Regions from separate parts of the Homo sapiens genome. Here region 2 is linked to region 1. Evidence: fine-mapped expression QTL. Tissue or cell type: adrenal gland. Region 1 holds a variant in brackets; the other region holds the start of a gene. All regions are shown on one strand. Distances are from middle to middle.

Region 1 (7,483 bases):
AACCACATTTCTTGAGTACCTTCTTCATGTGCCACATACTGGTGCCACCAGTACCACTGGTACAGTGTACCAGGCACTTTGAATGGATCATCTTTAATCTTCATAAGGACTCTGTGAAGTGGAGATTATTATACCTATAGCTCAAATGAGGAAATTGAGGCTGGGGGCAGAGGTGGGGTATCATCCAGCTTTTAAGTGGCAGAGCCAGGATTTGAATACTGCGTCTGCTTGATGCCAAAGTGTACCCTTTTATTAGCAAGCACATTGAGGAGGAAACGTTATTTTCCTAGAAATTTGCTAATCAGAAACTTTTCCTAGCAAACATTTCATAATTATTTCTGTGAATGGTCACCCCTACTAAGGCCACTCCACTTGTGGGTGGATCTCTTGTCACTGTCACCCCACCCTGGATCTGATGATCGGGGAGTTTCCCCTGCAGCTTCTGATTGGCCACTTGACACCATTTCTCATCCTTCCTGCCTTTCTCCCATCTTTGGGCTCTAATTGCAGCAATACTGTTTAGGTGTTGATTACCCTGAGGGTCTTTTTCTTTTGTCTGGTATATTTTCTGGTGATTCTTTTAGAAAGTTTCCCCCAGTTGTATAGCAATACAGGTATACTGTAGAACATTCAGGAAAACAAAAATTCAGCAGTTTCCTTTCAATCATTACATCTATGTTCAGGTTTTTTTTTTTTTTATGTATTTGAGATGCTGGGTTATAACTTAGTTGAGCAATAGATGTAATTTTGGACGTAATGAATGTAATTTTCTACAGGGCAGTTACACTTAAGTGATGTATTATGAAAATCTCACCCAAGAATGAATGTGGAATAGGAGTCACTTGTTCTAAAAAAATAAAAATTTTAAAAAGTAAACTTTTTTTTTTCTTTAGAAAGGCAGGGGCTGGGTGCGGTGGCTCATACCTGTAATCTCAGCGCTTTGGGAGGCCAAGACAGTAGGATCACTTAAGCCCAGCAGTTCGAGACCAGCCTGGACAACATAGTGAGATCCCATCTCTACAAAAAGTAAAAAAAATATTCGGGCATGGTGGTGCACACCTGTAGCCCCAGCCACTTGGGAGGCTGAGGCAGGAGGATCACTTGAGCCCAGGAAGTCAAGACTGCAGTGAGCTGTGATTGCACCATGTACTTCAGCCTGGGCAACAGAATGACACCCTGTCTCTGAAAAAAAAAAAGAAAAAGAAAAGAAAAAGAAGGAATGAAAGAAAAGAAAGGAAGGCAGGGATGATTAAATGAAGGAGCCCAGTTTATATCTGTTAGGCTTCCAGCTCTAACAGACAGAAGCCTCCATGCCCTCGTGCCATCCTTGTACTCCTTGGAGACATGATTAACTTGGTATTGAACAATTTCAAATTTGCATAATGGAAATTTATAGGAAATGTGCTGCACCGTATTTTCCCACTGACATTTCTCCCTGTTTTTACACTTTGCCAAAACATCATGTTTTTATGGCTTCATTATATTACATCACATCAAGGTTATAGGTTGTCAGATACTTAATCATTCCCTGACTTTTGGGCATTTAGGTTGTTCTCAAACTGTTTATGTGGTAGAGGATGCGGAAGTGAACACCTTTGTCTGCGTAACATCATTGTTGCTTCTTTAATCACAGACATTTTTGCTGTCCTGGTGGGAGGCAGTTGTGAGATCTTGACCCTGTAGAGTTTTAAGAGCAGCAGCAGCCAGACAGCTCACAGCGTAACCTTGAGCAAGTTGCATGACCTGTCTCTGCTTCAGTCTCCCTACCTGTAAAACTGGGGAAAATAATAGCACTTAGCTCACTATGACTTCGTATGTGTCAAGGGCTTCATAAGTACCATAGAAGTGTTTGCTTTTATTATTTACCTGGAATCCTAGAAATCGGGAGCTAATTGAGTAAAAGATGAACATTTTAAGGTTTCTCATAGATATTGCTGATTTGGGAGCGTGAGCCAGTCTCCTCCTTGTAACCCCAGGCCCCAGCACGGTTGTGGTCCATAGCTGCGTGGCAGATGGTCATCTATTGAAGCAAGTTCTCCCCGCAGTATGTGAGCATCTCGTGGTTCGTACAATTTCCTGTTGATTTTTTCTGCCTCACCTTCTATACTGTGACCTCTTTGAGGGCAAAGAATATGCCCTAAGCAAAATAATAGCTGGCTGGGTGCTGTGGCTCACACCTGTGACCCTATCATCTTGGGAGGCTGAGGCAGGAGGACTGCTTGAGCCCAGGAGTTAGAGACTAGGCTGGGCAACATAGCAAGACCCTATCTCAACCCAAAATAAAAATATATTAGCCAGGCATGGTGGTGCGTGTGTGTGGTCCCAGCTATTAATACTTAGGAGGCTGAAGTGGAAGGACCATTTGAGCCCAGGAGGTTGAGACTGCAGTGAGCCCTGATTTGCACCACTGCTTTCCAGCCTGGGTAACAGAGCGAGACCTGGTCTCAATAAAAACGCGAATAATAATAGCTGATATTTATCAAGTGCCTAACTCTGGGTCAGAACCAGTGCTGAGCACTTTGCATTTTGCACAGCTTGCCTCTTTTGCTTCTCTCAGCGCCCTTAGGAGGCAGGTGCCATTCTCAACCCTGGCTCACAGTTGACTGAGGCCCTCAGGAAACAGGCACTGTTTCCCAAACTTGCCCAAATCTGCTCTCTTTCCCAAACTTGCCAGATCAAAACACCCACCCACAGCACTGAGGGGGAGGGGATACTGATTCCCAGGCCTCACTCCTGGAGATTCTGTTTCTAAAGGTCTGGGGTGGGGCCCAGGAATCTATATTTTCACCCCAGGTCATCCTTTCATGCTGAGGCCCTGTCTGGACAACATTGTATGAGTGGCCGGATGACCCTGTGGTCCCCAAATTTCCTGTCTTGAGCTTTAGGCATTTTCTTTATCTGTCCTGTGCTGCTGGCTGGGAGGTTTTTCTCTGGGCTGTGAATTGAATTCTCAGTCCTGTCACTCACAGGAACAGGAGAGGATAAGGGCGACCACGAGGAGAAGATGTACTGAGTCTTATTAGTATGCAAGGCCCTTCTTGTCACATTGCCTTTAATTGAAGCTGAAGGGCTGGCGTATCTCTCTCTGGGATTTTCCACTCTCCCAGCCCTTCCGGAACTGGCTGGGCAC[C/T]AGCCTGCTGAGAGGGACAAGGACAGCATAGGGGTGCCGAGGCATCTGTCTGTTGGTGTTGGAAGCCAACCACGATGATGTCTCCGAGCTAAGGTGGAAGCTGCATTCTACAGCATCCTGGCTTACTTCTTCTCTCCTGCCTCTCACCCCTGCTTCCCTCCCCTTTTCCTCCCTCCGCTGATCAAGTACCTACCTGTGCAAGGCTGTGTTCTGCTAAGACCAGGAGGAGGAAGACCACCAAGTCGAGATTTTATCTCTTGCTTAATTTTTAGCAAAGTAGTGCATCCCCAGAGGCAATGACTTTGAACTTCAGCTGCTCCTCGGGGTGTTACTTCTGTATCTGGAACAGGTCTCTATGGTAATAAGATTTTCAATAGGATCTACTGATTTCCTGCCATGATAGGTGAGGGTTAGCTTAGATTCCATCCCTCCCCTCCTCAAAACAGCTAAATCATTCTTTTCCATGCCTTTATTGGTTGGCTTTGTAATTTCAAGCAATACACGAACATACCTATTTCTTTTTACCTTTTGGGGGGTGAAATATGCGTACAACAGTGGCTATAAAACACATATAACAATAAATAAAAACATTTGTGGAGGATCGCTTGAGCCTCCACAAGCCTCCAGAGGCTGCAGGGAGCTATGATCGCACCACTGCACTCCAGCCTGGGCAACAAAGCGAGACCTCTCTACAACATTTAACAAACAAACAAACAAACAAACAAACAGAACACTGTCAACAGTTTTAAAGCTCTTCCCCCATGAAGCCACTTCTCTGACTATCATGATAGCTGTTCTCTTGCTTTTCTTTGGAGCTCTTTTCACGTTTGTATGCATCTCTCAGCATTTAGATTTGCTATAAATAGAATCACACTATATGTATTATTCCGTGCCTCTCATCTTTCCTTCAACTTTTTTTTTTTTTTTTTTTTTGAGATGGAGTCTCGCCCTGTCGCCCAGGCTGGAGTGCAGTGACGCGATCTTGGCTTACTGCAAGCTCCGCCTCCTGGGTTCACGCCATTCTCCTGCCTCAGCCTCCCGAGTAGCTGGGACTACAGGTGCCCGCCACCATGCCCGGCTAATTTTTTGTGTTTTTAGTAGAGACGGGGTTTCACCGTGTTAGCCAGGATGGTCTTGATCTCCTGATCTCGTGATCTGCCCGCCTCAGCCTCCCAATGTGCTGGGATTACAGGCGTGAGCCACCGCACGCGGCCTCCTTCAACATTTTTGAGCTAATCCAAGTTGATGCGTGTGGCTTCGGCTCACTCATGTTCAGTGTTGTATAATCACTGGTCAAGTAGACCACAATTGGTTTATCCAGTCAACTGCTGATGGACATTTGGGTTGTGTCCAGGTTTTGCTATCACGAGCATCCTCCCAGTACACGTATGGAAGGGTTTCTGCAGTGGGATACGGGAGTGGAATCATTTGTATTCACTGTCAGACTCAGTTCCATTTGGTAACGCCAAGCAGTTTTCCAGTGTAGTTGTGCCTCCAGAGATGGTGACCTAATTGTGTAGGGTGTTCAGAAATCCCCAGGTAATTCCACTGGGAGGCTCCACGTCACACCTTGATTTCCAGCCCGTCAACTCGAGATAACACCTCTCGGTCCTCCCCCATGAACAAGGTCCCTAGCTCATTCCTTTCTGCTCTCCTCTGTCAAGATTTCTGAGTGATGATCTAAAGAGATACTAAGGGGCTTTTTCCCAAGCAAGGTCAACACGTAGGGAGTAGGCAACAAGGTTGTCAAGGTATGGACAGGAATTGGGTAAAATACCAGGACAACAGCTTGCAGGTGAATTCTTCCTTCAGGCAGTTGAAGAAAACTAAAGAAAACCCAAGGGCTGGGGAATTCTCCCAGAAGCCAGTCCTTCCCTCCAGCTATTAATTGCCTCCAGCATCTGTCTGTCTGCCAGCTATCTCTCTCTCTCTTTTTCTTTTTTTGAGACAGTCTTGCTCTGCCACCCAGGCTGGAGTGCAGTAACACGATCTTGGCTCACTGCACCCTCTGCCTCCCTTCAAGCGATTCTCCTGCCTCAGGCTCCCAAGTAGCTGGGATTAACAGGCGCCTGCCACCACGCCCAGCTAATTTTTGTAATTTTAGTAGACAGGGTTTCACCATGTTGGCCAGGCTGGTCTCGAACCCCTGACCTCAAGTGACCCACGTGCCTCGGCCTCCCAGAGTGCTGGGATTATAGGCGTGAGCCACTGTGCCCAGCCTGTCTGCCAACTCTCTCTCTAGCAGCTTAAACTGTGAGACTCACAGGCAGCCAGCATGATGTTAATAAGTTGAGGGGAATTCTAGACTCTTCAGGGTCCTACAGTCACGTTTCTTTAAAGGGATTCTAAGCCCCATCTGTGTCTCAACCCTGGCTGAACCTTAGCAACACACAGGAGCTTTACCTAGCTACTGATGCCCAGGCCCCAGGGTAGTTACATCAGAATTGCTGGAGTGAAACCCAGGCACCAATAAATTTCAGAAGCTGACCATGTGATTCTTACAAGCAGCCAGGGTAGAAAACCAGTAATCAGTGGTTCTCAAACTTTAACTAGCATCCATCAGAATCACCTGGAGGCCTTGTTAAACTGTAGATGGGTGGGCTCCACCCCCAGTGTCTGGTTCTCTCTGCCTGGAAAAGGGCCCTGAATTTGCATTTCTAACAATTTCCCCCTATTGCAAATGTCCCCAACTTGTCCCTAGAGACCCAGCCTGATCCATCAGAATCACCTGGAGGCCTTGTTAAAATGCAGATGGATGGGCTCCACCCCCAGTGTCTGGTTCTGTCTGCCTGGAAAAGGGCCCTGAATTTGCATTTCTAACAATTTCCCCCTATTGCAGATGTCCCCAATTTGTCCCTAGAGAGCCAGCCTGCAGGTCTGAAGTTATGCCTGATGCTGGCTGCACTAGTTGACCTGTGTACCTCCCTGGGGGGATCCAGGGCAGCCCCGCTCCATCTGACTGTGCGCACCTCTTCCCAACTCTGTTACGTTGTCAGGCTGCTGGCTTCCAATAGGCTATGGAAATGGCAAATGATACAACTCGGGACTCTCCCCCAATCCCTGGGGAGCTGTTAATCACAGCTAGTGGGACAGTCTTTAGGGAGGTGTGGCGCATCCTTGACTATGAAGAGTCAATGTCATCGTTAGTAGGGTCTAGAAGCACATAGGGTTTTCACTGTGGTTGCCCATAGAGCTTCCATATAAATGGAATAAAAAAGGTATATACCTTGAAAAAATGTTTTAAAATGTCCTGTGACCACAGGCTCCAAGTATTAAAAATATTTTTTTCTGATTTGTGTTGCTAATACAATGATTAGTAGTACGCAAAACCAAATAAATACATGATACAATTTGATAGTTGTCAAACATAGAAAATAAGGAGACTCTGAGGGCCCTCATTTTGAACTGCCTTCTTGTTTGGCACCTGGGGAGTCTTTACACACTGGGCCAGGAATGACAGGAGGGTGGGAAGCTGATGATCTGGAAATTGATTTCCTTTGAATGAACCATGACCAAGAACCCTTGCCCTCAGTTTGAAGACTGCAGGGCTGGTCTGTGTTGCTGAAGGCCCTCATCCCACCTCCATCAGAAAATAACCACAGGGCCAGGCGCAGTGGCTCACACCTGTAACCCCAGCACTTTGGGAGGCTGAGGCGGGTGGATCACTTGAGGCTGGGAGTTCGAGACCAGCCTGGGCAACATTGGGAAACCCATCTCTACTAAAAATACAAAAAGTAGCAGGGCGTGGTGGTGCACGCCTGTAGCTACTTGGGATGCTGAGGCAGGAGAATCGCTTGAACCTGCGAGGCGGAGGTTGCAGTGTGCCGAGATCTTGCCACTGCACTCCAGCCTGGACAAGAGAGACTCTGTCCCCAAAAAAACAAAAAAGTGCATTTCATGGGATGGTGTACATACCCACCTCTTTGCCGCATCTGGCTGGTGCATGCCCTTAGTTGCTGGGAGGTCAGGACGAGGGCAGGTTCACTTGAAACCTCAGCCCTACATAGTAACAAGCTCAAACACCCTTTTTACCAGAACAATGCTCTCCACAAATCATCAGAACCTGTGGCCTGGCTCAAACCACCTTTCAAGACATTCACATATGGGCAAGCAGCACTTGGACACTCCAGACAAAGATATATTAAAAGAGAGGGTCTTTCCAAAAGGATCCCTACTGCACCCACCAAGGGACTGGGTTTCCATATTTAATTGGGGAGAGGCTTTTATCTGTTGGGATTAATTCCCCTTACACACAGAGCCATACCCTGTATGGAGCTAACTTTCCTGTTTGGCAGACACAGGAAATCACCGAGATCAGGTTCTTGGTCCAGACCATGACATAAGAGAAAAGAT
Region 2 (5,000 bases), 32 kb after region 1:
CAGTCCTGTAAATAAAAGCAATCATTGAAATGCAAATTGCATCCTTGGCTGCCCGATCCACAGTGGTTGGTTCCTCTCAGGCTGTAATTCCGAGAAGAAAATGTGACTAAGCGGAACCCCCAGGAAGCTCTGCGAGAAAGTGCTTACGGGGCCGTGGGCTCCGGGGGGCTCCGTTAGAGTGGATAAAAACTGTATGAAAGCAGGGAGTGGATTTTAAAACCTGAGCTGCTCCTCCAGTTGGCTTGCAGTGGCTGGCTAGGCTCAAAGCGGTCCCCCAAGGCTGGACAGAGCCCCTTGGAGGCTCCCAGCGTCTCTCTATCCCCATGGGCAGAATGGAAAGGGGGGCTATTTTCCATTTCCTTGTCAACGTCAGGGGAGCTTCTACAAATCAGATCCCATGGCCTCCCACTCAAAACCCTCCAAGGGTTCACTGGTCCAAACAGAATAAACCCTAAACTCCTTTCCATGACCCAAAAGATCATGATCTGGCTGGTCCCTACCATTCCCCTATCCCCACCCCCAAATCTGCCTACAGCTCCAGCCACAATGGCCTTTGTTCAGTTCCTCTAAGCTCATTCCCACCTCCAAGCTTTTGCAGGCACAGTGCCTTCCTCCTGGTTCAGTCTTCCTCCAAGACCTCCCAGCGGAGGGCCCCTCTTCTAGCTGGGCTCCACTCAAATGTCACTCCCGGAACAGTCATCTCAGGTACATACACCCCTGTCACCTTCTTTTACATCACCCCATCTTATTTTCCTGGCCGTCCTCACCCCAATCGGATTTCATAGCCATTTGCTATGGGTTTGTTTAATGTTTGTCCACTCACTTCCCCAGCCCCGGGAGAGCAGGGGTTTTGTCCGTTTTATACAAGGCACCCAGTTCTGTCCCTGGCACGTTTCTTGAAATAACATATTAATCCAGTAAAGATTCTGAGTTTATCTTTCTAACAAAACTGCCTGTCTTGCTGCCTGTGCCCCCAAATGGCGGCTCCTTCCTCCTGGAATCTCCTTCCCTTCCCAACTCAGCTGACCCCTTTCCAGGCTTAGAGCAGGGAGCAGATAGCAAACTGTTCACTCCACAGTCTTAGATACCAAACTGGCCGGGAGGGCTTCCAAACGACAGATGCCAATTTGCATTCTATTTACATGTCATTTGCATGCAGTTTAACTCAAAGCCTGGATCCTCCGCAAGCCCGAGTCCCCACCGAAGAAACTTCTGAATTAAGAAGGTTCCTTGGCTGAAGTGCCGGGGTTTTTGTGCCAGATCCCTCCCCCACTTCTCTTGTCTTTGCGGGGTCCCCCAGGGCTTTCTGGGCTCTGTTCAGGTGCCCCCCGGCCTGGTGCAGTTGGGCGGCCAATGTGGCGCGTGGGCTGGGGCCCCAGGCGGGGACGCCGCTGCCCGCCACACTCCAGGGGCCTTTGTCCGCGCTCCAAGGAGCCGCCCCCTTAGCGAACGGGGGACGGAAAGGGAGGACTGGCTAGGCCTGGGTGTGACAGAGCAAGGACGGAGGAGTGAACCCGCTGCACGGGGGAGATTTCTGGGGCAAGGTCGTTGGCCCCTTCCCAGGCTGTTCAACCGGCTGCCCGGGGCCAAGGCGGGTGCGGGCTCCTCCCGCGCGCTCCCTTTTCGGCCTAAGCGCTAGGGACCCCGGGATGTGTGGGGTCCTTGTGGGGCTGGAAGCCTGTGTCCCCCAAGGAGAGGGGACCGAGAACAGGTCTAGTCCTTATCTCCAGCCTAGCCGCCTCTTCCAGAGGTCCAAGTGCCCCCTGTCTGGAAGGGAAACGCCACTGCCCCCCCCGCCATTGTATGCAGCCGCCCCCTCCTCCCCACCCCTCCCCGTCATTCGTCCCCAGCCCAGGTCTCAGCTCTGCCATCTCCCACCGCCGTGTCCCCCCCTCCCCTTGCTGAGTAATGCGCACTCAAGCCGGCTGCGGGCTTGACCCCCAGCCCCCGCGACAGGTGCGGCTGTTCACCCCCAAAGTCCAGCCCTTGTGCCCCCGGCTGCGTCTGCCCTGTCCACAGTCAGCCCCCAACGCGGCCCCAGGACCAGCCCGCAGCTCCTCACACATGACGAGTCACTAGGACACGGCTGGGCTCCTTTACCCTCCCAGCTGCCCTTCACCTGTGGTCGCCCCCACACCCTCCTGGGAGACTTGGATCTCTACCTGGTCCGGGCACAGTCTCCCTCCCCCCGTAAAGGTCCCCAGATCCTCCCCTCCCCCGCCCACCCCTCTACGGCTCTGCTCTCGTCGCACCGTGGTTCCCCTCGCCCAGATTCCACATCTCCCCCAGCAATAAACTCCCTGGCTTGGGTTGGGGGGGCGCTTAGAAAAACACAAGAAGCGGACCCCCCAATTCTCCCAAATCCACGGCGGGAAAAGTTTCTGGGGTCCCCACAGCGTCCTCCACTGCATCGGCGCAGCTCGCACTTACCGACCCCCGCGGCCCCGCAGCGCCGACGCTCCAGCTGGCCTTCGGCCCGAGTCACATCTCTGCGGCGCGGCCGCGGCCCCCGCTCCACGCACGCCCGCCTGCGGGTCCAGCTTCACTGCAGCGCCTGCCAGAGTCGCTGCCGCGCGAGGCGCCCCCTGGCCCGGCCCGCGCTGCTGCAGCGGCCGCGGCCCCGCCCCCGCCCCCGCCCCCGGCCGGCCCCGCCCCCGGGCCTCCGAGCCCCACCCCCGGTCCCGCCGGCGGTTCCGCGCGGGGCTAGGCGCCGTCTGCATGCACCCCCGGAGCCCAAGCTCGTAGCTTCTAGCCCGGATCTCAGAGACGATTCCCCCGACCTCGTGCCCCCAATTCGGGGACATTCCCCCCACAACGTCAGTGCGCCCGTAAGCAGTCCAGACGAGCCGGGCAACTCCCCAGGGTAGATCCATTTGCGGGAACACTCCCCTAGCCAATACACTTACCGAGGGAGGTATCGCGACCCAGGGGTCCCAGCGCGGAAGCCTTCCTGCCCCCAGGCCACGCTCCAAGGGGGGTTCATAAGCAGTAACTTCCCCGAAACACACCAGCACCAGGTCCAGGACGCAGAGAGGATCGATCCCGCCCGGTGCCTCTCGAAGTCACCAACGCCCCGGTATACACCTAGGCGCACACACACCGCTAGGCCTCCTCCAGGCAGGTTCCTCCTGGACACACTCTTCTCTCTCCTCACTGCCCAACTCCCAGATGTCGTTGTCCGTTTACGCACACTGGGACCAACACCCGCTTCCTTGGCCCCTCGAAACACACACGTCCAGTCGGTGCACCCCTCACGTGGGTCCCTACGCAGGATCGCCACCACCCCTACCGCACACATCACCCACGTACGCACATGTCCACTGCCCTTCAGGGCTCACACACTCAGCGGCCCGGGCCACTGGCCGTGCGCTCCGCAGACGGTCAGGGCACAGCCCGGACGCGTGTCCGCTGGGCGGCCGTGGGACCTGCTTGAAGGAGGGGTCCGGGGCAGCCGTCTCTGAGTCCCCCTCACCCCGTCCTAGTCCTCAGGCCTCTCCGAGGTCGCATTGCTTCGACCAGGCCTGGGAGCTGCGCTCCGGCACCCCATATGGGGCTGGTTCCCTGGGTGACCTTCAGACCATCAAACCCTGGCAGTCTCAGGTGGCCCCCCGCCAAAGCCAGAAACAGACCTTTGAGCAGCATCCCTTCCCTGCACTCCAGATTCTCAGGGTGAGATTTCCTTTCTCCCTCCGCGGTGCGCCCCCCAATCTCTACCCCCGTCGCCGCAACCATCCCAGCCACATAAGACCAAAAGGGATAGGACGGACCCCTGCTCCCCTCTCCCGGGGGCTGCAGGAAGGGGAGATGCAGAACACCTCCTTCTGGGAATAGTGGCAGCCCCTGATCTTTGGGGACCGTGGCCCTTCCAGATACTCCCATCCCTCCCTGCCAGCCTCCCAGTTCCGGTCCGGTTAGGCCACATCCCCCTTGGGCACGCATCTCTGGGATACCTTTTATTATATTCAAGGGAAAATGGAAAGGAAGAACCATAATGGCAGTTTTTCGCCCCACTCCTGGTTTATTTGCATGGATCCTCAGAGCCCAGAACAGTTCCAGGCACAGTAGGCGCTCATTAAATGTTTGCGGGACGACCCAAAGTGTGTTCCCGCCAGACTGCGCAATTGGAAAGTGGATGGGCACTGTCACCTGGTGGCAGCTCTTGGAACTGACGCCGAGATCCTTTTGTCAACGTGGGCAAGTTCACTTTCGTGAGCCACATGTCCTCAACGTCTGCAAAATGGAGATCTTTTTCATCGCACATGCCTATTGGGGTTGTTGTGAAGGTCTAACACGTGCTAACATATAAAGTGCTTCACGCAGGGTCTGGCATGTGGAAAATCCTTAATATGAGCTGATTAACATTGCAGTTACGGTTATATTCCCTTTCCCACTTGTTTTACAGAGGACCCTGACTGTGATGGTCAGTTTCACTTTGGGTGATGATACCACAGGGAGCACAGAGTGAAAATGAAGGAGGACATTGAGTGGCAGGTGCATTCCTTCCCTCCAAAAAGTTCAAACACCCATGGATGATAATAATAACAATAATAGCTGAGTACATAGTGCTTTCTGTGTGCCAGGAGCTATTCTAAGTGTTTTAAATTCTTTAATTCATTTAATCCTCCCAGTTACCCTTTAGGCCAGAGACTGTTATTCTCCCTGTTTTACAGATGGAGACACTGAGGCCAAGAGGGGTTAAGTACTGCCCCGGGGTTAGACGGTTGGCAAAGACAAAATCCAATCCAGGCCATCTGGCTCTGCAGGCCATATTATCCACCAATGGTTAGACTGGTGTCATTTGCTGTCAGGTCAGACATTGTCACAGAGGAACCTCACCTCCCAGGAGAGTTCACTGGGTCTCCAGCCTTGGAGAGAATGGCTCCAGGAGGTCCAGGGAGCCATGTCAGGCTCTCAAGTGCCCAGTTCACTTTGTCTAATGAAAACCAGTGGCTTCCCTGGCTCTATTCCTCACCTGAGAAATGGTCAGTGCACTGCCCATG

What was found. PIP is the estimated chance that this variant, and not a neighbour inherited with it, causes the effect.
Region 2: it holds the start of GPRC5B, and the variant in region 1 is fine-mapped to the expression of GPRC5B in adrenal gland (GTEx, PIP above 0.99).

Annotation. Positions count from the first base shown.
Region 1 is chr16:19,848,578-19,856,060 of GRCh38, forward strand. All of the region lies in intron 8 of IQCK (IQ motif containing K), which reads left to right. Among named protein-coding and RNA genes, the nearest start is that of GPRC5B, 33 kb to the right of the region's middle. RefSeq lists enhancers at 4,620-5,538, 5,539-6,458. The variant C/T (reference allele first, on the strand shown) is at 3,131.
Region 2 is chr16:19,882,297-19,887,296 of GRCh38, forward strand. GPRC5B (G protein-coupled receptor class C group 5 member B) reads right to left here and starts at 2,552. Exons shown (of 4, transcript NM_016235.3): 1 at 2,431-2,552. RefSeq lists enhancers at 1-564, 565-1,295 and a silencer at 2,811-3,105.